2 separate regions of the Homo sapiens genome follow, and region 1 is linked to region 2. The links come from fine-mapping of genetic effects on gene expression. Tissue or cell type: whole blood. Region 2 holds a variant in brackets; the other region holds the start of a gene. All regions are shown on one strand. Distances are between the middles of the regions. Region 1 holds the start of OSBPL8 (oxysterol binding protein like 8). Region 2 overlaps LOC105369850 (a long non-coding RNA gene).

The links. PIP is the estimated chance that this variant, and not a neighbour inherited with it, causes the effect.
Region 1: OSBPL8 starts here. The variant in region 2 is fine-mapped to the expression of OSBPL8 in whole blood (TOPMed, PIP above 0.99).

The regions. Positions count from the first base shown.
Region 1 is chr12:76,553,114-76,569,282 of GRCh38, forward strand. OSBPL8 (oxysterol binding protein like 8) reads right to left here and starts at 6,658. Exons shown (of 24, transcript NM_020841.5): 1 at 6,284-6,658. LOC105369850 (a long non-coding RNA gene) reads left to right here and starts at 6,789. Exons shown (of 4, transcript NR_188081.1): 1 at 6,789-7,120; 2 at 9,182-9,245. RefSeq lists an enhancer at 5,579-5,888 and a silencer at 6,299-6,488.
Region 2 is chr12:76,580,934-76,597,102 of GRCh38, forward strand. All of the region lies in intron 3 of LOC105369850 (a long non-coding RNA gene), which reads left to right. Among named protein-coding and RNA genes, the nearest start is that of OSBPL8, 29 kb to the left of the region's middle. RefSeq lists silencers at 3,072-3,272, 8,222-8,422. The variant C/T (reference allele first, on the strand shown) is at 8,013.

The sequences.
Region 1 (16,169 bases), 28 kb before region 2:
ACTCTACCCGGTAATAATGTTACTTAGATTGAACTTCTCTCTCTCCAGATCTACCATACTTCCATCCCATCAAAATATACCAACATAGATTCCATAATTTCCACATGGGCCCCAGCCTTCCTTGTAAAAAATTATGTAATCTGACAAACTATTCCTGCTAATATGTAGGCATTTGGCAGCCAAAAAGCAAAAATTACCTTACTGGTGGTCATCTCAACAGGACAGATTTCAACTGTACAGATCTGTGTCCCTCAAATATCACTAAATAGGCCTGGCATGGCAGCTCACATCTATAATCCCAGCACTTTGGGAGACCAAGGTGGGAGAATCATTTGAGGCTAGGGGTTCAAGACCAAGCTGGGCAACATAGTGAGACTCTGTTTCTAAAAAAAAAAAAAAAAACTTAAAAATTAGCCAGGTGTGATGGTATTCGCCTGTAGTCCCAGCTACTTGGGAGGCAGAGACAGGAGGATCACTTGAGCCTGGGAGGTCGAGGCTGCAGTGAGCCATGGTAGTGAGTGCCACTGCACTCCAGCCTAGGTGACAGCTCAAGACCCTGTATCAGAAGAAAAAAAAAAAAGGCCAGAGGAGGTAGCTCACGCCTGTAATCTCAACACTTTGGGAGGACGAGGCAGGTGGATCACTTTACGTCAGGAGTTCGAGAACAGCCTGGCCAATATGGTGAAACCCCATCTCTACTAAAAATACAAAAAATTAGCTGGGCATGGTGGCATGCACCCGTAATCCCAGCTACTCAGGAGGCTCAGGCATGAGAATCACTTGAAACCGGGAGGCAGAGGTTGCAGTGAGCCAAGATCACACTACTGCACTCCAGCCTAGGTGACACAGTGAGACTCTATCTCAAAAAAAAAAAAAAAAAAACACTAAAAAAAAATGCATACCAATTCTGTGAATCAGCCTTATTCTTTAAAACTATTTTTTAATTATAACAACTTAGCTTTAAATACTGTTATCTATTATGTTCTTTAATTTCCAGTTACTCCGAAATTCTCTGAAATTCCCCAGTGAGAAAATGGCAACTGGATGAACAATAAAATAAATATTTGCTTTACTCTAAGTATTTTTAAGATTTAAAAATAGGATGTCAGTCAAATACAAGTAAAATGAGAGAAAAAAAATCAAGGCTATATTCCATCTTCTTATAAAGTAAAGTGCATTTTGTAAATGACACAACTAAAACAGACTCAGGAAGATCACAAGGTCAAGACGTATCAAGAGGAGCAACTGCAAATAAATTATACAAGGCAGTATATAATATGATGGTTAAAAGGATAGGCTCCAAAGTCAAAGGTCAGGTTAAACCTCAAGTTTAAATCCTTTTAGTAGGCTCTACCACCTACTACTTAACTTCTCTGTGCCTCAGGTTTAGTTCAAATCCTGGCTCCACCACTTATTTAATCTGTCAGTTGCTCAGGTTTAAAAAAAAGAAAATAGCCTGATTGCGGGGTGGTTGTCAGGATCAAATGTGATGACATGTCAAGTACTTCTAGAGTAGTACAGTACCTGGTATATAGCAGTTGACGCACATTAGCTATTAATATGACCTATAACAATTTCCCTCTGAATCTATCAAGTTTTCAAAAACTCTAAATCAAAAAGCTTCTCCTTTTTATTTGAAAAAAGTCAAGCTCTGAAACCATTTCCTCTTTTTTTCAGTCCTTTTTGAATATGGAAATTAGTAGGTAACTGGCTTATCATTTGATGACTCTTCTTAGTCTTTGTATAATAAAAAGGCTCAAGACTCTTCTTAGTCTTTTTATAATAAAATTCTCTTCCAAATATTATACAAAGGACAGACTGCTCCATGGATCAAAAACACTACAAAGAGTTCACAAAGTATAATGAAATTCTGAGATTCATAAATGAACAGCTACTGGCACAAAAAGCTTAGATAAGAAATAATGCAGATGTCTGTTTGTTTGCTCAAGAAATACTGAATTTTATAATAAAACACAGATGGTAGAGATCTTCATGGCTTATAGTCACATCACTAAAAACAGAAAATATTTTTGGTAAATTTTTTCTTAACAACCAGAAAACCCCTTATTTCATCACAACAATGAATAGATAAATGACATTACAGGCAAAGACAATTTCTTCAAAAACAAATTACGTAGAGAAAAAAAGCTTAAAGGCTCAGATTTTCAGCTACACATATCCCTTACTTTGAGCTTCAAAAATTTGAGGCTTCTAGCACTCCTTGTGGTCTGTAACATTAAGCAGTAATACAATTAGGCCTCATTTCTACCAGAAAACATTAAACTGACTGAAAGAAAATTATCTAGAATTTTGATTCTGATCAATTTAAACATAATGCCATGAGTCATCTAGATGAGTCAAGCAAATATTAGAGTTCATGATAAACGAATCAAAATATGTTTTAAAGATCTGCAGACAAACGTTTTAATAATTTTGTATTTGCTGAAGTCCTCCTATGTGTGACACATTGAGGTAGGCACATTCATATTGAGGTATGCACTTTCACATGCATTATATAACTTTGTTCTCCCAACGATCATGGATTATTATCCTGATTTTACAAATGAGAAAACTAAGACCAAGTGATTGGCCGATGGAAACGACGCTTGTATAAGATTCAGTCAGAACACCAATTCAAATTTTCTGACCCTTATCGTACTTCCAAAACTCAAGTACTGTCAATCTCTGCTGTTGCAAAGCAAGTTAATCTTTTTATTTAGGGAGAGGTGAAAATAGAGATGGGAGAATAAAAATTCTTCATAATGTTACAAAAAAAGACTTACTGTGCTTTATCTGACATAATTTATTCAGTCTGACTTAAATGCTTTGCTGCACGTTGTCTACCCCCTTAGACACTGCTTATCTTCAGACACACAGCCCACACCAAAACCTAACTCAAGAATCACCTCCTCCAAGAAAGTTTCCCAGATTAAATGACCTGTTCCCCTTCTCCCAAGCTAACATCCTTCCTTTATCATTTCGCTGCTTGCATTTAGTTTGGACTACATTATCAGATACTCCTTTTGTTCTCCAGTCATATATCTGGAAGTAGACTTTTTTCATTCATTAACTATTGAACATTTGGAGATTCAATGGTGAGCAAAACAGACAAGGTCCTTGCTATCATGGAGAATTTACATTATCTGGATCTTCGACAAAGGTAAAAATAACAGGGTATAAGAATATGATGCTCTAGGACTAGGATTTCTTCCCTATAAGGTCTCCGAAAATAGCTCTCTCCCTTGCAAGCTTGATAACACTTTTCAGGAAGAAAAATTCCTTCTATCACGCCTTCCACATGAGAATTTTATGACTTTGTGAGGATATGTGAGGGATGGGGACCAAGGTGGGAAGAAAGATCTAAAATCTCTCAGGGGTTTCCCACATACTGCCATGAAATATGCACACAACATGAGTCTAGACATCTCTTCCTGTGTCTCATCACAAGGAAGCTATACTTTGGCCACAACTGCTCCAGTCAAGCACTTCTACTAATCTCCTTGTACCCAGCCACCTTCACTAAAAATTGTATATTTCTCAGAGGCTTTTTGTTTTTTTGGTGTTTTTTGAGACTGAGTCTTGCTCTATCGCCCAGGCTGGAGTGCAATGGCATGATCTTGGCTCGTTGCAATCTCTGTCTCCTGGGTTCATGCGATTCTCCTGCCTCAGCCTCCCAAGTAGCTGGGATTACAGGCACACACTGCCACGCCCAGCTAATTTTTTTGTATTTTTAGTAGAGACGGGGTTTCACCATGTTGGCCAGGCGGGTCTTGAACTTCTGACCTCATGATCTGCCCACCTCAGCCTCCCAAAGTGCTAGCATTACAGGCGTGAGCCACCGGGCCTGGCCTCTCAAAGGCTTTTTTATTCAAGTTGTGTTTCTGTCTTATTTGCAGGTCATTATTTGTAAGATTAAGGCAGGACCTATGTCCTCTTTGAATTGCCTGATGCTCCAAGAACATTGCTATAAATGTTTTTAACTTTCAATATAATACAAACATTACAACATGACATTTCAGGCATTGTTATTAGGATAATATTAGGATAAAAGTTTTCCAAATTAATATTAGAAAACTAGATCTATGTACTGTATCAATTCTTTGTCTTTAATGCCTTAATTCAAGTAATCTACTTTTGAAGGATTATTTACAAACCAAAGCCAAGTTGAAATGTACTAACACTGGTTAAAATTCTGCAATTCATACTTTTAAACAAAAGATCCGCCAGACACAGTGGCTCATGACTGTAATCCCAGCACTTTGGGAGGCTGAGGCGGGCGGATCTTGAGGCCAGGAGTTGGAGACCAGCCTGGCCAACATGGTGAAACCCCATCTCTAATAAAAATACAAAAATTAGCCTGGCATGGTGGCACGCACCTGTAATCCCAGCTACTCAGGAGGCTGAAGCATAAGAATCTCTTGAACCCAGGTGGCAGAAGCTGCAGTGAGCCAAGTTGCACCACTGCACTCCAGCCTGGGATACAGAGTGAGACAGTCTTAAAAAAAAAAAAAAAAAAAATCCTTTTGTAATGCATATTTTACAAATTCATAATTTCATCATTTTTCTTAAAGCAAACTAAAACATAAATTCATTATACACAATTGTAAATTTATCCCCAAAGTGTTTTCTAAGGCTTCCAATTTTTAAATGAACCAAGGAACTGAATATTGACAAATGTATAAGTACCCTGAATGTGTTATAAAAAACATATTTGACTGTCTTTAAAATGCAGTAACATTCTAAGGAAAATACAGTAGCATCTTTCCACAGATCAGAGATTCAATAACTATTATGATTCAATCAAAGAGAAATAAACCATGGCCATTTTTAATTAAACAGGCATTTCTAAGCACCTGTGTACACGGTATTGCTGTTCAAACGGTTGACATGGAATGTGACCGCAATAACTTGATGTCCATAATTAAAGACCCAAAAGGTAGCTTAAGTTTCATCTATTTCCTTTCTCAGCCCTTTGAGCAGGTATATTATAGTCACTCCATACACGGTTAATATTAAAAAAAAATAAAAGTAACAAACATTTGAAATTAGTTGTACTTTTATAGAGAACAGTTTTAAATTGCATGGCCTTACTTTTCCTATTCCAACCTATTTTATAAAACTAGCATGATCTTAATAATTTCACTGCAAAACAGGTTCTAGCAAGCATAGAAACTGATCATAGCCTCTCAGCAAAATCAAGTTTAGATGAAACTCTAGGAAATTAGCAAAATTTAACAATCAATTCACCCACGATTCTCCACAATTCTTGCTCTCTCTAGATACGAAGGGAGGCAAAAACTGTTTTAAAGGATTATTTCAAAAGCAGCACTAATTTTGGGAAAAACTTAACTGCCATGCAGGAGACACTGTATTACTACTCAGACGTCATTTAAGTCTTCTAGCAGCAGAAAGGCAAAAACATCATTAAATTTTTTATTTAATGCATATATACTTACATTATCAGTTAAAGTTTACCCATCTGTTTACGTTGTCCAAGTTACCTATTATTTCAGAAAGCATTTAAATAAAATGAAATTAGGTTACGTTCTGCAACGCAGATGTGTCTCATAAAGAAGAGTGTTAAATGACTTTTGTGAATGGAAAATCTGCATATACTGTTGCTTCGCCTCAGCCAGTCTTGAGTGGGTGGTTCAATGAACCTAAAGCATGCTGCCTGTGAAGCTCCTTGGAACCTGATTCCACTCTTGAGAGAGGGCTTAGAAACAAACATTAAATTTAAAAGCACAGCAAAGGCTTGGCTTTCCTCCTACGTTACAAGAAGGCCGGGAGAACTGAGGCTTAGAGGAACAACACCGTGTCGCTTGGCTCTGCAAAGGCGGGTGCGGTCTGCGGTGCGCGGCACAGCCTTCTCTGGGGCTGTCACAGGAAAGAAGGAGCCTCGCCTTAACCGCACCGAGCGACAAAGCGCCAGCTCTCCTGGGCGCGGGGGCTCCCAACGAGGCCCATGCCATCAACCTATCAAACTTCAGGAGGGACAGACACCCGGGGCGGTCGAAATGCTCCAACAGCCTCCCACCCCCGTTCCCCTGCCGCGGCTTTTGTAAGGCTGCAGATGCACCTACTGTGGGCCCCTAAACACTCCACCCTGCCAGCCTTTCCAATCCCCCTACTCCAAAAGGGAACAAAGGAGCCAAAGAACTCCTCGGCGGGGGTGGCCAGGAGTCCCCGACAGCCCGAGCTCAGAACGTGGCAATAAGGGTGCGCAGTCGCCCTGAGGGGTGCGAACCCAGCACCCCAACCTCAGGAATGGAGCAACACTCACCCGTGCGGAGCTCCCAGGGAGGCGGGACGCAAGGAGCCGGTTCCTCCGAGGTCGCCGCGGCGCCGGGGTCCGAGGCCCCGTAAGCGTCTAGTCAGACCCCAACTTCTCTCGGCCGCTGTCGTCGGCGGCAGCTGGGGCGCGAGCCTGGACGAAGGGCGCTGCCCAGCGGCCGCGGAGGCACTGCCGGCTCAGCCCCCGAGCGGGGCGGGAACTTTCGGCCCCGAGGTCCACCAGCCCGGGCGGACCCCCACCTTCCCTCAGTCGGCTTGCTACCGGCAGCGGCTACTGCGGCGTCCAAAGCTAACACTACAGCCGCCGCCTGGCCAGGAGCGCGTCGCGGCCTAATGTTGTCATCCGCCGCGTCGCCGCCTTTCTGGGCACCCAGAACCGCGAAGATCCTTCACATTCTAGTGCCCTCCCCCTGCCCCGCCCGCCCCCCGGATCACGGGCTTCGGCCACGCCCTCTTCCCGTCACGTGACGGTGCGCGGAGGCGGTGGTGGAGTTGCTTCCCCTGCTAGGCGGGCTCGAACCGGGCGGGAGTCACTGTCCACCTTGCTTCGCCAGGGTGTTATCGCCAGCCAGTCCCCTTCCGCATGCCCAAGGGCAGCCTCAGGAAGCGAGCCCACCACCGTCGGCCCAGCGCCTGTTGATCGGCCAGGCCTTCTGGGCCGGTCATACTGGGCCCTTCCTAACCTGAGGAGATTGCACAGTAGGGCTCCCTGGTCTGGTCAGGGCTCAGTTAGGACCCCTCTCCAGCCTTAGGCTTGGTGAAAGCTTTAGCGAAACAGAAAAAAGAACGCATCGTGGTGTAGAGTGTATGGCCTAAGAAGCATTCGGTAACTAAACTACTTGTTCCTATTTCTAGTGGCACATTAACCGTGGCATTTAATTTACTGCTTTCCTCATTAGAGGTTTTTTTTTTTTTGAGGAAACGGTGTATTTCAATCATGCTGGGATGAAAACAGCCTAGCAAACTTATTTTTGTTCCTTGTTATGTTCAGGATCCTGCTGCCAGTTTTACAGTCATTAAGTTTTACAGTGTGTTAGGTTGGTGACAGTTTAAACGGGTACGCAGGAATTTGACAGTTTGTTCCATTTTTTAAAATAAAGCCTAATTCTTGATTTTTTTTCTAATGCCTTAATTTTTTTTTCCTAATTCCTTAACTCTAGGACTTAACCTTTTGCTTTCTTTTTTAGCCATGATCCGAAGAACCCTCTAGCCGCCTAATGAAATCCTAACTATACAGAAGTAAGGGAGGTAGAATAAAGATCATACTCAAACCCTGATCACAATGAAGGCAAATGAGAAAGCTTTCTGTAATAATTAAATTGGGGTCATAACTCATTTTCCCTTGTAGCCCAGAACTAAGGATTTTTTTCTTAAGCTATTCTCATCTCATTACATTTTCTTAACAAGAAATCAGAAGGCATTCTGATAAGCTGGATACATTGAAATGAATAAGCAATAGAGTTTGGCCTATATAATTATTATTAATATATTTCATAGCAGCTCTAAAAAAATCATAGACTTACATTGTTTTATGTTACCCAAGAAAGAAAACAAAGGCTGCCAATGAAACTATGCCATACCGCTGATATGTAAGGCACCTTTAAGCCACATCTTTTTCCTTTTTTTTTTGAGACAGGGTCTCACTCTGTCTCCCAGACTGGAGTGCAGAGGCGCAATCTCGGCCCACTGCAATTTCCGCCTCCCGGTTCAAGCGATTCTCCTCCCTTAGCCTCCCAAGGAGCTGAGATTACAGGCATGCGCCACCATGCCCAGCTAATTTTTGTATTTTTAGTAGAGAGGAGGTTTCACCATTTTGGCAAGGCTGGTGTTGAACTCGTGACCTCAAATGATTCACCCGCCTCGACCTCCCAAAATGCTGGGATTACAGGCATGAGCCACCGCGCCCGGCCTGAGACACATCTTGAATTCAGAGATGTAAACATGTCAGAAACAACGAGTCTTAGAATCTCTGAGATATTGTCATGAACTGGGAAACAACGAGTCTTAGAATCTCTGAGATATTGTCATGAACTGGGAAACAACGAGTCTTAGAATCTCTGAGATATTGTCATGAACTGGTGTTCCAAAGAGGAAAAGATTCTACCAGGTTCTGTTCTGAAGCCTGAGAGACTGTAGTACAAATAAATGTGAAGGAAGTTTATTATTCTGTGACATTATTTCAGCAAAGCTAGTAACTTTGGAGTTTGTTAACAGATTAACTTGTCTCCTGTTTTCTAGAGGCATGTTTTTCAACCTGCAACTCAAAAATCAATTTCATTTTTATATGAAATAGGCTAGGATGTAATACAATATAAAATACCAGAGTGCATAATGTCTAGTAAGGGCAAAAATTGCTTCCTGAAACTTTTTGTTTCAAATATGGTGGAAGGTGAGAGTATGTCCTATGTTGTGATTTAAACAATTTCTTACTGTGAGTTGCAATCAAATAGATTTGGAAAAGAATGTTCCTAGAGCATAGATAATATGCAAAATACACCATCTGGACCCCGTTTTTCTGGTACTTTTATTTTACTTTGGAAACTGAGACTAAAGATTAGAAAAAGGTGGCAAATTGCCTTGCCTAATTCTCTTCTGCCTCAGCCCCAATTTCATACATTGGCTTTTGAAAATTTGATCATTTGTTGGAAAAAGCAATGTACTGGAAGCAAGGAAGCCTAGGTTACAGACTTAGCTAATGAGATGTATGACTAGATAAATTACTCCCTGCATTTCAAGTTCCAATCAAGTAGGACCACATGCTGTTTGAGAAATGATACTAAACCACCTTTTTTTTTTCCCGGTGGATGGCAATCACATTGGAAACAAACAGACACGGTATACTCAGGATTATGCAAATTACTGACAGCCTACGTTTAACTTCTTTCAGCTCCACTCAAAAAAAAGAAAGTCCTAATGCAAGTAATTGAAAGTGAAGATATTGCAAAACAAATGTAAGTATATCTTTCACAATCTTCTCTACTTTGATTATCACTAGTATAATAGTTACTTGTCATGAATAACTAATGATTTTGACATACTTAACAACTGATTGCAACACAAAAATATATTAATCCACTACAGTTGAAAAATCATTTTTTCAGATCCTTTCAAATCTGATATTGTGATTCCAGGAATGATAATTCAATCTAGCATTTTCAATGTAATGACAACATAAACAGAAACTAATATGTGATCCTGCACTGTAACTGAAAAATATTCAGTAACTCCCAGAGATGCCCTGCAAGTTTGCTACTCTTACAATGATTTTAAGAATGACATTTTGAAATAAAGCTTTTTTATTATAACGATCCGATTTTAACTCCAATGAGAATTCATCTCTTTTGCCTACTGCTTTATTAATTATACATTTCTAAGAATGGGAAGTTCTTTCCAAATTAGTTTAAGCACTGACAGGCTTGACAGCCTTTCCCACAGTATATTTCAACCCTGACCTAGAATGACAGAGATGTTGCTTGAGGTTGTTTGCTTTTTTCCATTTGGCTTATCCCATTAGACAATTATGTTGCTGACAATTACTAATCAGGATTCTAGACTAAAATCCTCATTTTCTGGAAGAGAATTTAGATTAAGAGCAACCTCAGCCATAAATAAGGTATTCAACACAGCTTTGAAGACTTGTATTCTTGTTGGTCATGTGATTTGCTTTAGCCAGTGCTTTGTGAGCAGATGTTAAATGCTAAATCAAAGCAGAGGCTTTAAATTTGATTGCAAAATTCAGGTCAATCTCTTACTCTTGTGCCACCTGCCATGAGAAAGGTATGTTCCAGATAAGATCTCAGAATAAGAAAATAGATGGAGCAGACCTGAAACTCTCACCCTGTACAGAACTGAAGCAACTGACTTGCAGCTCCTGACATACGGCTACTGATGTGAAACAAGAGTAAAACAAAAATATTTGTTGTTGTGAATCACAAATATTTTTGAGATTGTTTGTTGCGTAGCATAATCTTGCAAATCATCTAAAGTGAATTTGAGCCAACAAACTCATGAGTCAAAGGCTAAATGTACTGTGGAACAATAATATTTGTCTATTTAATAAAATAAATAACAGACATCTACAAACTAGTCAACCAGCTATTTGGTAAATATCCACCTAAAATTTATGTTAAGAAGCAGTCTTTATAAAATCTGTAAATTTGCATGCAAAATGTTTGCATGTAAGATATTTACATACTGATTTTAAATATTTCTGTTTAGTATTATTTGTCTTAAATATCCCTTGAGGAAAATTTGGATAGTAAAGTATAAAGAGAATATAGGATTCTGTTTCTAGAAATATCAAGGACTAGTTCACACTTGTCACACTGAAAACAAAATCCCTGGAAAAAACATTTTTTAAATCTTATTAAATATATTGATTAACTGACAATAGGGTAAGAAATTATTAAGTTAAAAAACTAAATGAAGGCAGGAACCTAGAGTTTAGCAGAGTCAGCCAACTTTTATCTCAAGGGCATGTGCTAAACCCAGTTACTAGGAGCATTGGTTTTCGTGACCTTGTAAGAAAGACACAAAACCCATTACCTGCATTATACACACACACACACACACACACACACACACACACACACAAACAACTGCAATTCCAAGGATTATTAATTTGATGTAAGGATATACTAGAAATAAACTTGCTGCTTACTAGCATAGGCACCCATCCCCCAGAATCTACAAAGAAAATTAGCCGTCTTAAACCTTGGCACCTGGTGGACAGGGGAAAAGCAAAATCGTATCTGAGAATTTGGAACTGCAATCCAATTCTCACACAAAAACGTAGCTTGAATTCATACTAGCTGGGTGGTCCCCAAAAACTTCAGGCTAATAATTAAGATTTTTTTTTTTTTTTTTTTTTAGACAGGGATTCTCTGTCGCCCTGGCTGGAGTGCAGTGGCATGATCTCAGCTCACTGCAACCTCCGCCTCCCAGGTTCAAGCAATTCTCCTGCCTCACCCTCCCGAGTAGCTGGGACTACAGGCACGTGCCACCACGCCCAGCTAATTTTTTTATTTTTAGTAGAGACAGGGGTTTCACCATGTTGGCTAGGCTGGTCTCGAACTCCTGACCTCGGGTAATCCGCCCACCTCCGCCTCCCAAAGTGCTGGGATTATAGGCATGAGCCACTGTACCTAGGCGTAATTATGAATTTTTGACTGATAATGCTCTCAGAAACCTGGCAGAAGCAAATACCAATCCTCTCTGGAGGAACCCACCTTCATCTTAAGCCATAAAGAATGACTATAAATAAAATTTTAAGGAAAATGAGCAGCTCACATTTAAAAAAAAATAACAAGCACAGAATAAGACACCATTCGTGAGAAACAGTACAGACTTAAGACAGCACAAACAAATTTTAAAAGACTTCAGATCCTGGATTTACAAGTCACGGACTGGGCCAGGTGTGGTGGCTCATGCCTGTAATCCCAGCACTTTGGAAGGTCAAGGCAGGCAGATCACTTGAGGTCAGGTGTTTGAGCCCAGCCTAGCCAACATGGTTAAACCCCCATCTCTACTAAAAATACAAAAATTTCGCCTGTAATCCCAGCTACTGGGAAGGCTGAGGCAGGAGAATCGCTTGAACCCGGGAGGTGAAGGTTGCAGTGAGCCAAGATCGCGCCACTGCACTCCGGCCTGGGCGACAGTGAGACTCCACCTCAAAAAAAAAAAAAAAAGGGGTCACAGACTGTAAATAACAATATTAAATATGAGTAAAGGAATAAAAGACAAGTTTGAAAATATGTGCAGAGAACAAAAAACTAAAGTAGGAATGAAGATTTTGAAAAAAGCAAATAGAACTAAAAGAGTTGAAAAACATAAATGATTAGAATAAAAACTCAGTGGACAAATTTAGTAGTTCATTTGACACAGCAGAAATACAAGCCAATGAAATGGAAGATAAAGATGAAGTTAAATGCAATAAAAAAAGAAAACATAAATTAAAAATATAAAAGAGACTTTAAGTGACATGGAGGACATTGTAAACAGCTCTAAAATCTAATTATGACTTCAGATGAAAAGGAAAGAGCCAGTGGGCCAGAGGCAGTATTTGACAAGATAATGGTTGTGAACTTTCCAGAACTGATGAAAGACTCCAACTCACAGACTTAAGAAGCCTCCCAAATCCCAAGCAAGTTAAAGAATAATAAAACCACGCTGAGATATATCACAGTGAAACTGTAGAACACCAAAAACAAAAAAGAAAACCTTAAAAGCAACAAAGAAAAAATATAGTTAATCTTCAAAGTGTCAGGTAAATGACTTTTCATCAGAACCAGTGAAAAACAGAAGACAGTGGAATAATATCTTCAGTGGACTAAAAGAAAATGACTGTCAGCCTAGAATTCAGTACCCAGTGAAAAAATTATTTCAAGAATGAGGCCAAAATAAAGGAATTTTCCGGCAAGCAAAAGCAGAATTTGCCGCTAATAGAGTCTCGCTAAAGGAAAGTCTAAAGAAATTTCTTTTTTCAGACAAAAAGAAAATGATCCCAGGCCAGGCACAGTGGCTCACGCCTGTAAATCACAGCACTTTGGGAGGCTGAGGCAGGAGGATCACAGGAGTTTGAGACCAGCCTGGACAACATATTGAGATTTTATCTCTACAAAAAATTTAAAAGTTAGCTGGGCATGGTAATGTGTGCCTGTGGTCCTGACCCGGGAGGCTGAGGTAGGAGGACTGCTTGAGCCCGGGAGATCAAGGCTGCAGTGAGACATGATCACACCATTATACTCCAGCCTGGGTAATAGAGAGAGATCCTGTCTCAAAAAAAAAAAAAAGAAGAAGAAGAAGAAAATCAACTCAAATGGAAGGTCTGAGAGTTGATAATAAACGAAGAGCATTAAGAGTGGTAGATATTTGCCTAAATCTAAATACAATTGACAATGCAAACAAACAGTAAGTATTGTTAAAATTATTTTAATAAGTTTTTTTAAAGAAAAAAAAATCACATATCTAACATTAGAAATAGACCCAACCAAATTTGCATTTTATGCCTACTATTAGACCTCATTAGACAAAGTATTTTACAAACTAGTACTATTATCTCCATCTGATACATACCTTTTATTTTAAAAGCAAAAACATGATACATTTCTTCTTTTCTCATCCATAGAGGCAAATTGTATTAATATATTATTGGTATTCTCTTTTTAAATAACAGCATTTTAAGTGTTTTTCTTCACAATGACATTCTTATTTCAAATTTACATAATGTACCAGTGAAGATGATGTATTACATAATTAGACTAAGAAAGTAGCATATATTTAGGAGATCATGATTTAGAGTAATAAAAAGCAGAATTATATACTATTTTCACTTAACTATGAAGTATTAATGATTCCCTCCATAGAAGTCTATAAATGAAAGTTCATCATAACAAATTATATAATTATGTATTCACAGGTTAAAGACAATTAAGTCTTATTGAAATGCTCTGCCTACCCTTTCCACCCACGTTGCCTATTCAAAATTATGTGCATGCTATGACTTTTAACACCATCTTGGGAAATAGCTAGAAATTTGTGCGCAGGTATAAGGATTGACTACTGAGTTTTAACTCAATTCAGAGGACATCCTAAATTCAAAATAAATTCTAATAATAATAAGAACCCATTTCTGATAGCTACTTAGACTACAAATTTCCAATTGTAAATGTGTTTTTCATTTCAATTTTAGGAGAGTGTTTTTTTTTTAAGTTTATCATGACTATTTAAACATGGGAAGCTTAGAACACATAATCCCTTAGATTTCCAAATCTGTAAGTATAATGCAAATGAATTATACCTTACTTTTTTTAAACCAGAACCTTTCTCTTTTTTCCCCTCAACCACGAGATCATTCAAAGTATATTTACTTATATACTACTTTGTTTTTGTTTTAGAATCAGGGTCTCACTCTGTCACCCAGGCTGAAGTGCAGTGGCGTGCATTACAGCCTCGAACTCCTGGGTTCAAGTGATCTCCCTCCTCAGCCTCCTGAGTCACTGGGATTACAGGCATGAACCACCACACCCTAGAATATTTTCTTGATAAAACCAAATCTATAATTTTATAGAAGACTGTCCAAATGACTTTTATTTATATCTCTTAATATATGTAAAAGTGTATACATTACTAGTATTCCTATTAGCTACTAGATTGCTAGCTAATTACAAGATTATTCCAGTTAGCTTTGTCCAGCCTGTATTTATACAAGTATATGAAACTCTTGAGAAGTCACAGTAATTAAATTTTCATAAACCAGGTTGTATATTAATTCTTTCAATTTAATAAGTTATCAGTTTGTACTGGGTCCTACACTTACTTACAAAAAAAAATTATCAAGTATCTGTATGTTGTTCTACCTCTTTCCTGAAATGAGTGTAAAGCTAACAAGAGTCCTCACCCTATAAACCAGCAGTATTTCAAAACTCATTGTTACTGTTCTGGGAGTGAAGGTGCCGTATATTCTTACCGCATTATCAGGTAGCAACCATCTACTCAATCCTCCCAACCACAGGTACTACCTAGATGTCTTTTGCCAGATCTCCCAGGTATTTAGTGCCTCTTTTACCTCTACAGAACACTGGTACCCAGAAGTGATATGGTGGAAAAAGAAGGCGCCTACCCTATATTCCAATAAAGTCTGTCCACTACATTCCTGTCACGTTCATTCCTCTGTTCTAGGCCCTGTTGATATTCTCCCCTAGTTGTTTCCAGTCCATTTCTATGGGAGCCTTACTTTTGTCTGGTATTCTTACATGCACAGCTGAGACCAGACTCCCAGTCTCATTCCCTTAATTGTATCCTTTAATCCTTAATCCCTGTAATATCCTCCTGGAACTGGGATTGATATACCTCTATTGAAGACTTTATCTTTGAATGTCAGCTCACTTCCAGACATGGCCACCAACTCCACCCCATGATCGCACATTGTTATACTCCCCACTTCCTTCTGCAGTCAGCAAATAGACTTGGACCTGACATTCTTTGTGTCCTAAGCCCCCCACCCCTTCCTTAAGTTACTAAAGTAGTACACCAAAAGAATACAATTATCTGAACTGAGGGCGGGGAAAATTCCAGAGAAAAATGACCTTCGTGCAACAAACAAAGGCAAGAGAGTAAAAGGGAGGGCACTGTTAGAGATTTAAAATAGACTTACCAGATATATCAACCAAGTGCAATACGTGGATCTTTACCTTTATCAGATTCCAATTCAAACAACTTATAAAAAGATATAATGAGACAATCAGGAAAATTTTAATACCAACTACATATTACAGGATATTAAGGAATTATTGTTAATTGTCTTAGTTGTGATAATGGTACATGATTATGGTTTTTGTTTTTTTAATGTCTCATTTCCTAAAGACATTCTAAAATGTTACTGGGTCCCTGCTTTAGGAAAGAAAAAAAAAGAAGACTTTCAGAGTATGTCACTTTCTTTTTTATACCTGTCGGTCAATTCCATGGGAAAGTATTACTACTTGTTATTTTCTACCCTTAACCAAATACAGTAATCATTTTCTCCTTATCATATCTATTATTATTTTTTAGTAGAAGTGTTCAAATCAAAAGCAGCCCATGCTGCCTACCTGGTATTTGCTCCAAACATCTATTAAACCACTATGGAAGGCCTAACATCATAAGACTGGTGGTAAATAAATCTGATTGAGCATGTTAGCATGTTCAAATTTATATAAAGCATTCTGCAAATACAGATTACTCTAGAGATGCTAAGAAGCAGATGTACTGATCTCGTTGGCATTGGCATTCACATGATTCAGCTACAAATAGAATTTGAACAGATTCCAAATGCACAACTGTCAAATTCATAAAAAGTAGCAAAAAAAATGTCAAATAAAAATTTAGGCTTTGCCTAG
Region 2 (16,169 bases):
TGGTGGTGCCTATAATCTCAGCTTCTTAGAAGGCTATGGCAGGCTGGGCACGGTGGCTCACGCCTGTAATCCCAGCACTTTTGGAGGCCGAGGTGGGCAGATCACCTGAGGCGGGAGTTTGAGACCAGCCTGACCAACATGGAGAAACCCCGTCTCTACTAAAAAATACAAAATTAGCTGGGTGTGGTGGCGCATGCCTGTAGTCCCAGCTGCTCGGGAGGCTGAGGCAGGAGAATCACTTGTACCCGGGAGGCAGAGGTAGCGGTGAGCCGAGATCGCGCCATTGCACTCCAGCCTGGGCGACAAGAACGAAACTCTGTCTCAAAAAAAAAAAAAAAAAAAGAAAAAGAAAAAAAAATAAGGCTATGCCAGGAAGATCAATTGAGCCCAAGAATTCAAGACCAGCCTGGGCAACATAGAAAGACCCAGTCTCTTAAAAAAATAAAAATAAAAATAGATTAGAAACATCAGACTCAAAATAGTAAAACTCCTAGAAGAAAACGTTAAAAGCTTCATGACTTTGGTCTTGGCAGTGATATTATGGATATGACACCAAATGCACAGGCAACAAAAGCAAAATAAACAATAGTCTGGATGTTCCTCAAAAAACTTAAAGTAGAACTACCATTTATCCAGCAATCTCCCTTCTAGGTCTTTGTCCAAAAGAATTGGAACCAAGATCTTAAAGAGATATTAGTACTCCTATTTTCATTGCAGCACTATTCATAATAACCAAAATGTGGAAATAAACTCAATGTTCATTGACAGATGAATGGATGAAGTGGGCAAATACATACAATAGAATACTATTCAGCCTTTAAAAAGAAGAATTTCTGCAATATGAGACAACATGGATGAACCTTGAGGACATCATGCTAAGTGAAATAAGCTAGTCACAGGAAGATAAATACTGCATGGTTCCACTTTTATGAGATATCTAAAATAATCAAATTCATAGAATCAATGAGTGAAATGGTAGTTTCCAAGGGCTGGGGGAAGGAGGAAATCGGAAGTTACTAATTAATGGGCATAAAGTTTCAGTGAAGCAAGGTAAATAAGCTCTAGAGATCTGCTGTGCAACATTGTACAATTTCAATAATGTATTATTTTCTTAAAAATTTGTTAAGAGAGTCCAGGTGTAGTGGCTCACGCCTGTAATCCCAGCACTTTGGGAGGCTGAGGCGGGCAGATCACGAGGTTAGGAGATCGAGACCATCCTGGCTAACACAGTGAAACCCCGTCTCTACTAAAAAATACAAAAAAAATGCCAGGTGCCTGTAGTCCCAGCTACTTGGGAGGCTGAGGCAGGAGAATCTCTTGAACCTGGGAGGCAGAGGTTGCAGTGAGCTGAGATTGTGCCACTGCACTCCAGCCTGGGTGACAGAGCGAGACTCCGTCTAAAAAAAAAAAAAAAAAATTTGTTAAAAGAGTAAATCTGCCAGGCGCGGTGGCTCATGCCTGTAATCCCAGCACTTTGGGAGGCCGAGGCTAGTGGATCACGAGGTCAGGAGTTCAAGACCATGCTGACCAACATGGTGAAACCCCGTCTCTACTAAAAACACAATAATTAGCTGGGCGTGGTGGCAGGCGCTTGTAGTCCCAGCTATGTGGGAGGCTGAGGCAGGAAAATTGCTTGAACCTGGGAGGCAGAGGTTGCAGTGATCCGAGATCGTGCCACTGCACTCCAGCCTGGGTGACAGAGTGAGACTCTGTCTCAAAAAAAGGAGAGTAGATCTCATGTTAAGTGTTCTTGCCACAAAACATGTTTTAAATATAAAAGGGAGGATAGTGCCTAAATCAAGAAACTTGAATTGACACAACTTATTCCAAAATCCCTGGGAGATTTCTACTTCTTTAAAAAGAAATGTGCTATCTGTAAGGTCACTCTTAGCTGCAAGAGAGACAGGATATTTTTAAGTTTACGTTGTCATCCAAACTTGAATTGGATTTCTGTTACTAAGGAAGAAGCAGAAAATGGATATTAAGCAGGTAATTTGTCATAGTCCATTCATTGGACTGTGAATGGCTTAACACACCATATTGTAAATATATTTTTTGAAATCTGTTTCTTTCCCTAGACTGTAAGATCAGGACTGATTTTTTTAAATGTCTGTATCCCCTCATTTGGCAAAGTATTTTGCACATAGTATATGCTAAGTATTTATACATGATTTGCTATTGAATGTTTCCTGTGGATTAGTTTATTATGAGTAAAAATTAGGAAAACTTTATTACCAGCAAAAAGTAGGGAGGAAGTTAGGAAAAATTATCACTAAAAATGTTAGCATATGTGACTTCTTCTTGATACTTTTAATTTTTGTACTAATTAATTGATTTTTAGTATATCATAAAAACCCTATTTCTTATATAATTATAAGGTAACTTCAGAACATAAAAACTTACAAGAATATCACAAGTATCTTAGTCCATTCATGCTGCTATAACAAAATACCATAGTGTGAGTGGCTTATAAAAAACAGAGATTTATTTTTCAAAGCTCTAGAGGCTAAGAAGTTTAAGATACGATACTGGCAGATGCAGTGTCTGGTAAGGGTCTACTTCCTCATAGACAGCTGTCTTCTCATTCTAACCTCACACGGTGGAAGGGCTGAGGGTTCTCTCTCAGGCCCATTTTATAATGGCAGTAATCTTATTAATGAGGGAAATAACCCTATAATCTAATAATATCCCAAATGCCCCGCCTCCCAATACCATCATTTTGGAGGTGAGGAGTTCAACATTTGAATTTTGGGGGAACATAAACATTCAGACCACAAGAACAATAATTTATTTGTTTATATTAAAAGGAACCATCTTCTCTGCCTCACAGTTTTCCTACCTGGCTCTTAAAATAGAAATATGTTTCTTTCAGAACTATAGAGTCAAGAGGAAATTTCATCTTTCTTTCTGCCACTTTCCCCAAGTGGAAGGAGTTTTGTATTTAATTGGTGATTTGGGGAGAAAAACATAAAACCCAAGCCATTTCTTGCCATCTTTTTCAAATCTTCCCACCCACAAGAAATTATATTCTGCTCAGTTCCTCAATATATGTCATAAACTAAAAACACACGGATTAGGGCCTATGCTTGTCTTCTAGAACAGGCCTGAGGCCTAACTCTCATTCTTTCTACTGTTGATCTCACCAAGCAGAAACAGTGATTCTACACAAGTCTATCCATCGTGCAGACTCAAATTCTCCTGTGGCGAGTCATCACCCATTTGGACTTAGGAAGTATTTGACCAGCTTGGCCAACATGGTGAAACCCCGTCTCTACCAAAAATACAAAAATTAGCTGGGCATGGTGGCAGGTGCCTGTAATCCCAGCTACTCGGGAGGCTGAGGCAGGAGAATTGCTTGAACCCAGGAGGCAGAGGTTGCAGTGAGCTGAGATCACGCCACTGCACTCCAGCCTGGGTGACAGAGTGAGACTCCGTCTAAAAAAAAAAAAAAGAAATATTGAAAAACCTGGTCATGGTTGTATATTATAATACATCCAATCAGCTTTATCTTAGGAAGCTTTTTTGAAATGAAGTCTCACTCTGTCACCCAGGCTGGAGTGCAATGGCATAATATCACTGCTCACTGCAGCCTCTACCTCCTTGGCTCAAGCGATCCTCCTACCTCAGTCTCCCAAGTAGCTGGGACTACAGACATATGCCACATGCCTGGCTAATTTTTCAAACATTTTGTAGAGATGGAGTCTCCCTATGCTAGGCTGATCTTGAACTCCTGGACTCAAGCAACTCTCCCACCTCGGCCTTCTGAAGTGCTGGGCTTATAGTCATGAGCCACCATGCCAAGCCGAGAAGTTGGTATTTTATCTTTTTGGCTTCCTATCAATTGGGTCTGAATTCAGGGAAGAGTTAAGATGTGTGAGCAGCTATCACTGCCTAAGCCCCATTAATGACAGGATAGTAATACATTTTTTAATAGGTAACTCTAACCAAAAGTAGTTGTTTTATGAGAACCTAGGTCTAGCAAAAGAAATAAACTTAAATCTTGCCAGTCTAACAATAAGGGAATAAAATATCCCAGCAGCCAAGTGTGGCAGCTTATGTCTGTAATCCCAGTATCTTGGGAGTCCGACACAGGAGGATTGCTTGAGCCCAGGAGGTCAAGGCTAAAGTGAGCCTTGGTTGTAGCACCATGTTAAAGCCTGGGTGACAGAGTGAGACCCTGTCTCAAAAAAAAAAAATTTTTTTTGTTTATTTATGAATGCCTACTGTGTGCAAGGCAGTGTTCAGAGGAGAAGTTTAAAGAGTTAGAATACTAATACTTTAAACAAAAGTTACCTGGTACTCTAATTTTATTGTTTGAGTTTTGAATTGCTATAATGATCAAGGCAAAGAAATATCATAATTATAACATTTGAGTGCTTATGGCTTGTCAAATGAGCAGTTTCCTGCGAAACAATATCTGATTGAATCCTCAAAACAACTCTGTGAGACAATACATGAGAATAGTCTAGGTTGTGCTGCAGTTGGGAGAAAAAGCAAATGTTTAACAAAAAGTTAGCTCTGGCTGCAGGCAACTCTCCAGGCAACTGTCTTCCATGCAACAACGTGATAATCCAGGCAGCTTCAACCTTGTGGTGCTGCCATCTTAAGATGAATCTTTTTCCATGGTTGCCACAGTCGGGAAAGAAAAAAATTTCATATCGACCTTTTACTGCCACATCCTGAAGGTGACACACGTAAAATCTACAGTTTTCACTGGCCAGACCAAGTCACATGGCTCCATTCAGTTGTAGGGTCGCTGAGGAATACAGTCAATCCACTGAGTGGCCAGAAAGGAAAGAGAAGTAAATATTGATTAACAAAGCAATATGTAGCATAAATAGCTATTATGACTGTTGTTTTTATATAGGTGAAGAAATGTAGGCTTAGAAAAATTAAGTTATTCATCCAAAGGTACATATAAGGTAAGTAGGGGAGCCTCAGCATATGGACCTATCTGACTCCAGAGCCTGTGCCTAACTTCTATCTTCCATTACCTCCCAGCACCGCACTGGAAGCCTGGCAGAACCTAGCCACCACTAGGGATATTTAATTCAATTCATATACATTCAGTTCAATTCAAATCAGCATATATTTGCTAAATGCTTTCTCTTTGCCAGGCATTGCAGCTGCATCTGGAGGAGGGTTGAGCTATTTCACCATATAGATCTCCTACGACTTTGAGACTGTGATGTAAAGAAATAGGCAACTGTGATGGTTATTTTATTTGACAACTTGGCTGGGCTGTGGTACCCAGATATTTGGTTAAACGTTATTCTGGATGTTTTGGTGAAGGTGTTTTTGGATGAGATTAACATTTTAACCAGTGGATTTTAAGTAAAGCAGATTACTTTCCATAATATGGACGGGCCTCATCAATCGGTTGAAGGCCTTCATAAATCAAAGACTGACCTCCCCAGAGAAGGAAGGAATTCTGCCAGCAGGTTGCCTTTGGACTCAAGCAGAAACTGAGTCCCCACAATCATGTGTGCCAATTCCTTAAAATAAACATCTATATCTATAATATCTATATGTATACACATTCTGTTGGTTTGGTTTCTCTGGACAACCCTAACTAATATAACAAGCTTAAAAATTAGTTCTATAAAACAGGGCTAAGAAATGATTCTTTATTATACTTTAAGAACAAGATCCTCTGCAATCCCTATTTACTTTTATCTTTGAATGTTAAGTAAAAATAGCAGAATTCTAAAATAACCTACAGAAATAAGTCAAGATTCATTATATTTTCTATAATACAAGAAGTTTTACAAAGCTATTCATCATAAAATACATAAATTTTTGCAAGGAACCTTGTGGACTGAAAAAACAGCCAAAACAAATCTGCCACATACAGGCCCCAGAATGTGGTTTTATAATCTGTCCACTTAGGAAACTGTTCCAATTATCTTCACAAATTCAGTATTGTGAGAATGTGTCTAGGTGTTAATTATCATTTTAGAAGGAAGTCAGCTCTCCTACACAGCTAAGAATGCTAACAGTCTCCAATTTTAACTTGTTCTCTTATACAAGATGCTGTTTTGGGAAGTATTTAGTTGCCCCCTGCTGGCCATACAATTGCAGGATTCATTTTTTAAAAAGTTCTCAGTAGATTGCAGATGATAATGATAAACTTCTGAAGAGATGCATTCAACTTTTTCATCAGATGAATTCACAATAGACTTCCAATGCTCAATTGAGATACGTAAGTTAATAAAAAAAATTTTTTTCCCCACCACCTGGTATAGGGTGAAATGTTCCAGCAGGAAGACTTTAAGCTAGATCAGTGGGAGAACAGGATGAGATGTAGGAGGAGTGACTGAGGGGCTTCACAGGCTCCCTTTCTTCTTTAACTTTTGTTTTAGGTTGAGGAGTACATGTGCACGTTTGTTATATAGGTAAACTCATGTCATGGGGGTTTGTTTTACAGATTATTTCGTTACCCTGGTACTAAGCCTAGTACCCAGAAGTTATTTTTTCTGCTCCTCTCTCTTCTCTCACCCTCCACCCTCAAGTAGGCCCCAGTGTCTGTTTTTCCCCTGTTTGTGTCCATGAGTTCTCATCATTTAGCTCTCACTTATAAGTGAGAACATGCAGTATTTGGTTTTCTGTTCCTGTGTTAGTTTGGTAAGGCTAATGGCCTCCAGCTCAATCCATGTTCCCACAAAAGACATGATCTCATTCTTTTTTATGGCTGCATAGTATTCCATGGTGTCTATGTACCACATTTTCTTTATTCAGTCTACCATTGATGGGCATTTAGACTGATTCCATGTCTTTGCTATTGTGAATAGTGCTGCCCAAAATTCCTAAACACAATTTTCTTTCTATAATACTCATGTCATATTTTATGTCTCTTCATATCCTTTTTAAAACCATATGGAAATAATTTACCAAATTGAGAGGAAAAAAACACTTGTTCAAGAAGCTTAAAAACTATATTTTTATCCTGTCTCTGCTACTAACTCTCAGGCTAATCTTGAGCAAGACTCTTTAACTTTTGGCAGTGATAAATATGTTTACAAATTTTGATTTTCATTCCCGAAAGTTTCTTCATGCTATTTTGTAATTTCTTCTTCCTGCCACTCTTGGGACTTTCCCATCCTCAAGTTACCACTGATCCACTCTCTGTCACTGCAGATTAATTTGCATTTTCTTGATAAGAAAATTATTTTATTTTATTTATTTATTTTTGTTTTGAAACAGAGTTTCGCTCTTTTTGTCCAGGCTGGAGTGCAATGGCGTGATCTCAGCTCACTGCAACCTCTGCCTCCCAGATTCAAGTGACTCTCCTGCCTCAGCCTCCCAAGTAGCTGGGATTACAGGCACGTGCCAACATGCCTGGCTAATTTTGTATTTTTAGTAGAGATGGGGTTTCATCATGTTGGCCAGGCTGGTCTCAAACTCCTGACCTCAGGTGATCTGCTAGCCTCGGCCTCCCAAAGTGCTGCGATTACAGGCATGAGCCACCATGCCTGGCCGAAGAAAATAATTTTTAAGCTTACTAGCTAAGACACTTTATAAAATGAGATATGGAAAAAATGTAAATGCTTTATAAATATTTTTAAAAATTGAGTTTCCCTATCTTGAAACCTGAGGTGCAGTGTGATGCAGTGGTTAAAAGCTTAACCTTGGGGCCAGGCACGGTGGCTCACACCTGTAATCCCAGCACTTTGGGAGACTGAGGCAGATGGATCACCTGAGTTCAGGAGTTCGAGACCAGCCTGGCCAACATGGTGAGACCCCATCTCTACTAAAAATTTAAAAATTAGCCAGGCATGGGGGTGCATGCCTGCAATCTCAACTACTTGGGAGGCTGAGGCAGAATAATTGCTTGAACCTGGGAGACAGAGGTTGCAGTAAGCTTAGATAGCACCACTGGAAAAAAAAAAAAAAAGCAAAAAGCTTAAACTTTTAAGCCAGCAAATGCGGGCCTAGGTCTTGGGTCTTGGCTCTGTTATTTACTAGCTGTATGATGTTGGGCAAGTTACTCAACACCCTGAGGTTAACAGTTT[C/T]CCCATGCTTAGAGAAACAGATAATAATAGCATCTATCCTCATAAAGATGTTGTGCAATTGCATACAAAACACTTAGCTCAGTGCTGGGCCTGTACATAAAAAACCTCAGGGTTGACTACCAATGGTAGTCATCTATCTTTAGACATTTCAAAGAGCATCACCTTAATTCTAAGAAAAGGAAATGAGAAATGAGAACCCTGGCCATGCAGCCAGTGCAATCCTAAGGCAATCATTTTAGAAATGTTTTGTGAGGATTATCATAGTTCACTGTGTCAGACATGGTATCCAGCTGACTCTGACTCAAGCCCTTTTCTTAAGCACCCCATTGGTTTTCTTTCCTCATAACTCTTTCTCCAAGTGTCATGGTATCCCTTTCTTTGTAATTCCATTCCTCCCCCTCAAACATATGACCTGACAGTCATCTCATTTCACCTTTGTGATTTGACATATAACTTGGCCAGAGCAGAGTGATAGTCATCACTTGAGATGGCAGGCATGGTGGAAATAGAGATAATTGAAGAAACAAGGCTTATTTGTGAAAAATGTTCTTTAATAGTTTTATCCCTTGTATTCAAGTACTTCTGTTGCTCTTTTTTGAGCTCTGCCAGGTTTACACTTATTAAATTTCTCTCCCTACAATGGAAACTACTTGAACCCCACTTGCCAGCCTAGCCCAATTTAGTATCTTGGGCCAATTCTAATTTTATGAAAGAGAGAGTTAAGATGCTGTATCTTGAGATTTGCATAGAGAAAGCACCTTTAGCATGCTTTCTTCCATGAACTTTTAGCACTGCCTCATTATAGTGTAGAGAAATATATGGGTAGGGGGTAATTAATTTCTGAGGAGGAGAACCTCCTGCCTACCATCCCTCCTAACTTGTAGCATACCATTTATACAAGTTTATTCTCTTCTGCTATCTTAGCCTGGCTTCTTCCCTGAAATCGGAGTCTGAGACAATAACTTCTGTGCGGATAGTTGATTTTGGGAAGAGATCCCAGTGAATAGGAGTGAGGGGCTAGGAAAATTAAGACATGAAAGGAAGGAAAGCTAACTCAAGAATACATTAATCAATCTGAACATTGTTGTAGGTAACTCAGGCTCATTTCTCTGGATCTTTGAATAGCTACCTAGAATTGTCTGCCTTCCCCCAATGTGGCAGACATATCCTAAGGTAACCCCCAATGATCTCTGCCTTCTGGTATTAATGACCTTCTTTATGCCCCTCACCGTAAGACTGGGTAGAACTTGTGAACTGCTTCCAGCCAGAAGAATAAGGCAAAGGTGATAGGATGTTACTCCCATGATGTAATGTAATACATGCATTACAATATATGACAAATGTGATGGGATATCACTCCCATGATTATGTTATATTATGTAAGAATCTGTCTTGATAGCCGACTCACTCTCTCACTTTCCTGCTGGTCTTGAAGAAACAAGTTGTCATGTTATGAACTGCCTATCGGAGAGGACCATGTGGCAAAGAACTCAGAGGTGGCTTGTAGAAGCTGAGAGCCAACAGAAACAAAACAAAACAAAATCTTGAAGCTCTCAGTCCTGTGACTGTAAGGAAATGAATTCTCCCAACAACTTGAGAGAGTTTGGAAGAAGATTCTTCTTTCTTCAGGCTTTCAGATGGGAACATGGTCCAACCAACACCTTCACTGTAGCCTGGAGAGACCCCAAAGTAGAAAACCCAACTAAGGTGTATCTGGACTCCTGACCTACAGAAAGAGAGATAGTAAATGTGTGTTATTTTAATGTGTTCAACTTGTGTTAATTTGTTACATCGAATTGGAAAACTAATAGAGATTTTGGTGCCTAGAGGTAGAATGCTACTGTAATAAATATGTAAAAATATGTCTGTGGCTTTGAAACTGATCAGTGGACAGAGACTAGAAGAATGCTTGAAAAGTATGATAGACAAATCCCAAATCACTGCGAACAAACTCTCAGTAGAAATGTGGATATTGAAGACTGCTGTTGAGGACTCAGAAGGAAGTAAGGAACATGCTATAGGAAACTGGAAGAAGGGAGATCCTTGTTATGTACTGGCGTAAAGCTTAGTGAAATTATTTCTTGCAATTACGTTGAAAGCAGAACTTGTAAATGGATGAATTTGGTTATATAGTTAAGGAGATTTCCAAGCAAAGTGTTGAAGGGGACAACTGGTTTCTTCTTGCTACTTACAGGAAAATTCAAGAAAAGAGACAAATTGAGAGAAGAACTATTAAGCAAAAAGGAATCAGGACTTGATAATTTAAAAAATCCTCATCTTCCCCAGATGGCAAAAAATATTAACAGTTGGAGATGGCTTTTGGGCACTGTCAGAAAAGCCTACTCTAGAGAAAATGCACTTGAAGTTACTCTATAATCTTTTTTAAAGCCCCCAAAAGATCAAAGGTCAGAGTACTCAGGGGTATTTCAAGATACGGCCCTTAGATTTGAAAAGATCTAAGGGTATGCCTCAGATCCTCTCAATCACACTATTGAGCCTCTAGGAAGCTTAAAGGAGATGGAATTATTTTTGAAACAATCTGTAGATGTGGCCTTTGTCTGATAAGAGTGAATGCCACTGAAATACAGAAAGAACCACAACATTCTTGAGAAAATTATTTCTGCAGAAACAGTGCCAACTTGGAATAAGACAGACAGAAAGACTAGAAAATGAAAAGAGGCTGTCAGACCTCCAAAATTTTACTGGCAGAAAGCAGGCTGATAAAACTACTCATCTGCAAACACATGCTACCTTCCATGAAAAAGGAAGAATGACTCAGATGGTGGAACCAAGAACCCAGAAAGCAGAGCCAAGAGCCATGAAGAATCATTCCCAAGCCTAGAAACTTAATTAAGGAACTTCCAATAAATCCAGTTGTATTTCAAAACTGCTATAGACTAGTGACTCCTTTTTACTACCCATTTCCCCTATTTTTAAACTGGAATGTCTATAGCTATTATCCTGTGTCTGTCCCACCATTGTATGTTGGGTGTGTTGGAGGCAGATAACTCATTTCCTTGGTTTCAGAGGTCCATAGTTAGAGAATAATTGTGTCCAGGAGCTTTACTTAACAGGTTATACGTAGGAGGCTCATCTGCACCTGGACTTGATTCACATGATGAAATTTTAGAATTTGAGCTGATGCTATAATGAATGAAACTCTTGGGAACTGATATGGTTTGTCTCTGTGTCCCCACCCAAATCTCATCTTGAATTGTACTCCCACAATTCCCATGGGTTGTGGGAGGGGCCCTGGTGGGAGATAATTTGAATTATGGGGGAGGTTCCCCCATACTGTTCTCATGGTAGCAAATAAGTCTCACGATATCTGATGGTTTTATCAGGGGTTTTATCAGGGGTTTCCACTTCTGCATCTTCTTCATTTTCTCTTGCCGCCGCCATGTAAGAAGTACCTTTCACCTCTCAGCATGATTCTGAGGCCTCCCCAGCCATGTAAGTCCAATTAAACCTCTTTTTCTTCCCAGTCTCAGGTATGTCTTTATCAGCAGTGTGAAAACGGACTAATACAGGAACCTTGGAAGGGGAGAAACCATATATTTCATATGGGAGGGCCTGAGGAAAGACTGGCAGACAGAACCTAGGCTGATTCTCCAATGACCCCCACTTTCTGATATCAATGCCCCTGTTAATTACATCCCATGAATATGGGAGGAATCTGTGAAGCATCTAACTTATAGAATATGGCAAAGGTGACAGAATGGCATTCCTATGATAACATTATGTTATGTAAGACTTCATATTGCTAGTAGACTCTTCTGCTGGCCATGAAGAAGCAAACTGCTATGTTGCTGCCTATGGAGTAGACCACATGGCAGGCAACTTGAATGGACTCTAGGAGCTAATGGCATCCTCCAGCTGACAGCCAACCAGCACACTGAAGCTTTCAGTCCTATATCCTCAATGAAATAAATTCGTTCGGCAAACCATATGAGCTTGGGAGCAGATGAGCTTCCCAATGAGAACACAGCCCACCTGATGCATTGACTCTAGCCTGGAGAGACCTGGAAGCAGAAAATCCAAATAAGCTGTGTCTGTACTCTTGACCACAGAAACTGGGATATAATACATGTTATTGTTTTAGGCTGCTAGATTTGGTAACTTGTTATCCAGCAATAGATTACAAGTGCAGTCAAAGATTGTCCCAGAGAGTGTTAACTTCTTTACTCTTCCAGGTTGTACATGCCTAAGCGCAGAGTGGGTTCTCATTGGCATCCATGCCATATCATCAGAGCAGCACAGGTTTTGAAATGATAAATATGTGGTACAGTTGCACAAAACTGGTTGCCATAGCAATAGTTGGTATAAAAGGTAGGCTGAAAGGATGTGAAAAAGATTATTCTAGTTTGTCTCATCCTGGCTACCATTTCAGGGAGTCTGTGTTGCTTGACTGGGTGGGGGCAACCAGATCATCATCTCTGAAGGGTCTGAACTCTAATTCTTGCTCTTCAGTGAGTCTTAATTATTACAATTACCCATTTATACTTATCACCAGACATGGAGCACGAAGAAATAACTCAGTGAATCCTATGTGTTCCATGCATCGGACTTCCTGTCTCCATTGGGTAGCAGCAACTCTATTTCATATGGGTAATCAAGGTCAGTTATCACCACCAAGATAGTAAGTGTTTTCATTGATGGTCCACTGACACAAGTGATCTAAAATGATCATGTGATAGTTATAGTTTCCAGTTCAATGGAGACTTCATGTGTGCCCTCATAGAAGTCCCCTTCATACCAAACAAGTGCTTCTAATCCTGAAAAGCCTAAGAATGCACAGATAGGAAGCCCAAATTCTGCAAAGGGGTCAATGGGAGTGTTGGTGAGAGCCATTCCTACAACCACCCTTTGGTTTCTGGACCTGTATATTCTGGCTATTGGAAACACACCACTAGAAATCAGCTATACTTTTTTTTTTTTTTTTTTTTTTTTTGAGATGGAGTCTCACTCTGTCACTTAGGCCGGAGTGCAGTGGTGCAATCTCAGCTCACTGCAGCCTACACCTCCCGGGTTCCAGCGATTCTCCTGCCTCAGCCTCCTGGGTAGCTGGGATTACAAGCACACGCCACCGCACCCAGCTAATTTTTGTATTTTTAGTAGAGAAAAGGTTTCACCATGTTGGCCAGGCTGGTCTCAAACTCCTGACCTCAGGTGATCTGCCCGCCTTGGCCTCCCAAAGTGCTAGAATTACAGGCGTGAGCCACTGTGCCCAGCCATCAGCTATACATTTAATGCACCTATCTTATTCTTGAGAACAATACCCTATCCTTTTGAAGTGTTAGTCCTGCATGGGTTCCTTGGCTAAGTCTTTATTAGATTATTTTATTGTTCCATTAGGATGGCCAATTTCATGTTTATGCCCCATTATTACACCTATTTTATCATAAAATGGGCTCTTTGATATAAAAAAATAGGTAGAATTCAATGCCAGTAAATCAGGCATTCAGTAAGTTCTTGTACGGTGGGTGGTGCTGACAAAGGTACCTACAACAGTGAAGAAAAATGCATACCCATAATAGGTATCAATTCTGATAAGTACAATTTGCTATCCCCTCCAGGGTTGAAAGAGTCCAATATAATCAATTTCCCACTGAATGGTTGACTAGCCTTCTTAAGGGATGGTGCCATAATGAAGACTTAGCATTTATCTTTGCTGCTAATAGACTGGACAAGCAGCAGTGGCCCAGGAGAGAGGGAGTTCATGCTATTGGATCATTCACAGCCTTTATCCCTGCCACCATGGCCATGTAATTATCATAGGCCCATTGTGTAAACACAGATATTGCTGAGAAGAGAGACTGAATGATTTCTACTAGACAAGTCCTGTCTACTTGGTTGTTTAGTGCTTTCTCTGCAGTATAGGCTCTCTGATAGGCATTGAGGTAGCACACAAATTTCTGCACACTTTGAGCCTACTCCAGTGGTCTACCCATACATTTATTCCTTGGATATTTTTATTTCCCATCTTCCAGTCTTTCTCCTCTAGGCCTGTCTGACTAACCAACCAAGCCAATTGCCATCATTCAAAGGTCCATGTACATCTATACATCAGGCCTTTTCTTCCTTTATAGAAAGTAGTTGATCAGGTACACTGCTTACAGATCTGCAGTTGAGAGAATTTCCCTTCAAGAATACCCTTAAGTAGGGTGGTTGTGTAGCAGCAGTCCATTTGGAGTTAGCACCAACAGATTGAGATGAACTTTCTGTGATTAAGATTCCATGCGCTATTTTGCAACATCATGCATTTAGTCATTTGGAAAATAGTGCTTCATTGAGTTATGCATATCTTCCAAGTGCTGACAGATTTCATGTTGAAATACCCCAAAAAAATCACATGTGTTATTGTCACCACTGATCTCATCAGAAAATTTTTGAAGAATCAAGAAGCTGCCAAATTCATAGAGGTAGATATGAGTTTTAAAAAATTCTAAATTTTGTTTGAAAGCTCAAATGTTATCATTGGCAACAAACGCTGTGAGTTGTTTTCCTTGAAGTGACGGGATCACTTATTTTTGAGAAAAGTTCTGACACATACCTAAGTCTGAATAACTATAGTTTATCTGTCTGTCATTCTTTCAAGTAAAGATAATTTTCCATGTAAAATAGTGGCTTAACTCACGACTCAAGCACAAAAATCATTTTCTTTGAGATAACCTTAGAACTTTGGTGTGCAACAGGAATACATTATGCATTTTGTCTCACAGAATTTTAAAACATACATAATCAAGGGTTGAGATTTAATAAAATTAATCATGCTATTTTATCAAGAATAATATTAAATGAAACTGTCTTGCTTTTCTGGGATATAGCAGTAAATAATTCAATGTCTACTAGTACACTTTTGGTACCACTGCCTTAATTTCTGTTAAAGCACCAACAATTTTACCCACCATTGCCTTTGTTTCATAGTGCAAATGTCAACTCACTGAGAAAGCCAAGTAATGTCTTGGTATTATTGTAAAAATAGTTTTGATCTTGTATATACTTGAAAGGATCTGGGAAATTCCCTGGGGTCTGCAGACCACATTTTATGAACCATGGTCAAGAGAAAAATCTGAGTCCTATGTGGTAGCAATCCACTTTTCACACAATTTGCCCCTCTGAGAAGAGTCTGTGCTGTTTTCACCAATCCTGGCTTTGACGCCTCTCTCATTGGCCTTTTCTGCTTGCTGATATCATGACCATCATATTCCATTCTCGGTTCTAGTTCCGTTTCCCATGTCTAACCATTTATTCTTGTCATCAAAGTAAAGATTCTTTGCCTCTTTTTGTATCTACTTGATCAAATCTCACACAAATCTTTTAATGATTCTATTTTAATTCTTGATCTTTTGTTACCAAACAGGCCCTTCAGGATAGAACTTAATTTCATTCATTATTCTTTTATTCGTACATTATTTATTTATTTTAAAAAAAACATTTTCTGCAGACCTACTATGTCATTTCCCAGAGAGATAGCATTTGCTTTTGGCCTTAAAGGGTGACATTATTTGGACAGGTTAAATGAGTTTAAGTTTTTCAAAATATAATAAATAATACCAGATTTATGGAGGTAAAAACAACAACAATAGTAGGGAGATTGCTTAGGGAAGCTCAAGGAGAATGCACACGGTGAGTAATTAAAGACAAAGCCAGAAAGGCATTGCAGCGTCATCTCATAAAGTATGTTGAATGCTTGAAGTTTATTTTGGTAAGCAATAGGGAGCTACTGGAGATATTTGAGCAGAAGCAGAAGTAATGGTGTGAAACAGGCTCAATATCAGAGTCTGCTTAAGATTTATATGGAGGAAGAATTTGGTGGGAAAAAATAAACTTGAAGCAAGAAAACCAGGTTGGAGGCCTGAACTAGGTGGGTAGGCACAGAAATGGAGATGGATGGAGTTAGATTTTGAGTGCAAGTAAGATCAGTAGGCAGTGGTGAAGAAGTTTTTGTCAAAAATAATTACAGTTTCAAGCATGAATTACTAGGAGAATGGTGAACTATTAATAGAAATCAGATAATCAGAAAAAGGAACAGTTGGTGTGAGGCAAGATGATGAGTTCAGTTCTCTACCTGTTAGGCATATAAGTGGCTATACTCAGCGGGGGCCTATTTGTAAATTTTATACCATTTACAAGAACTGGAACCTAACAGATATT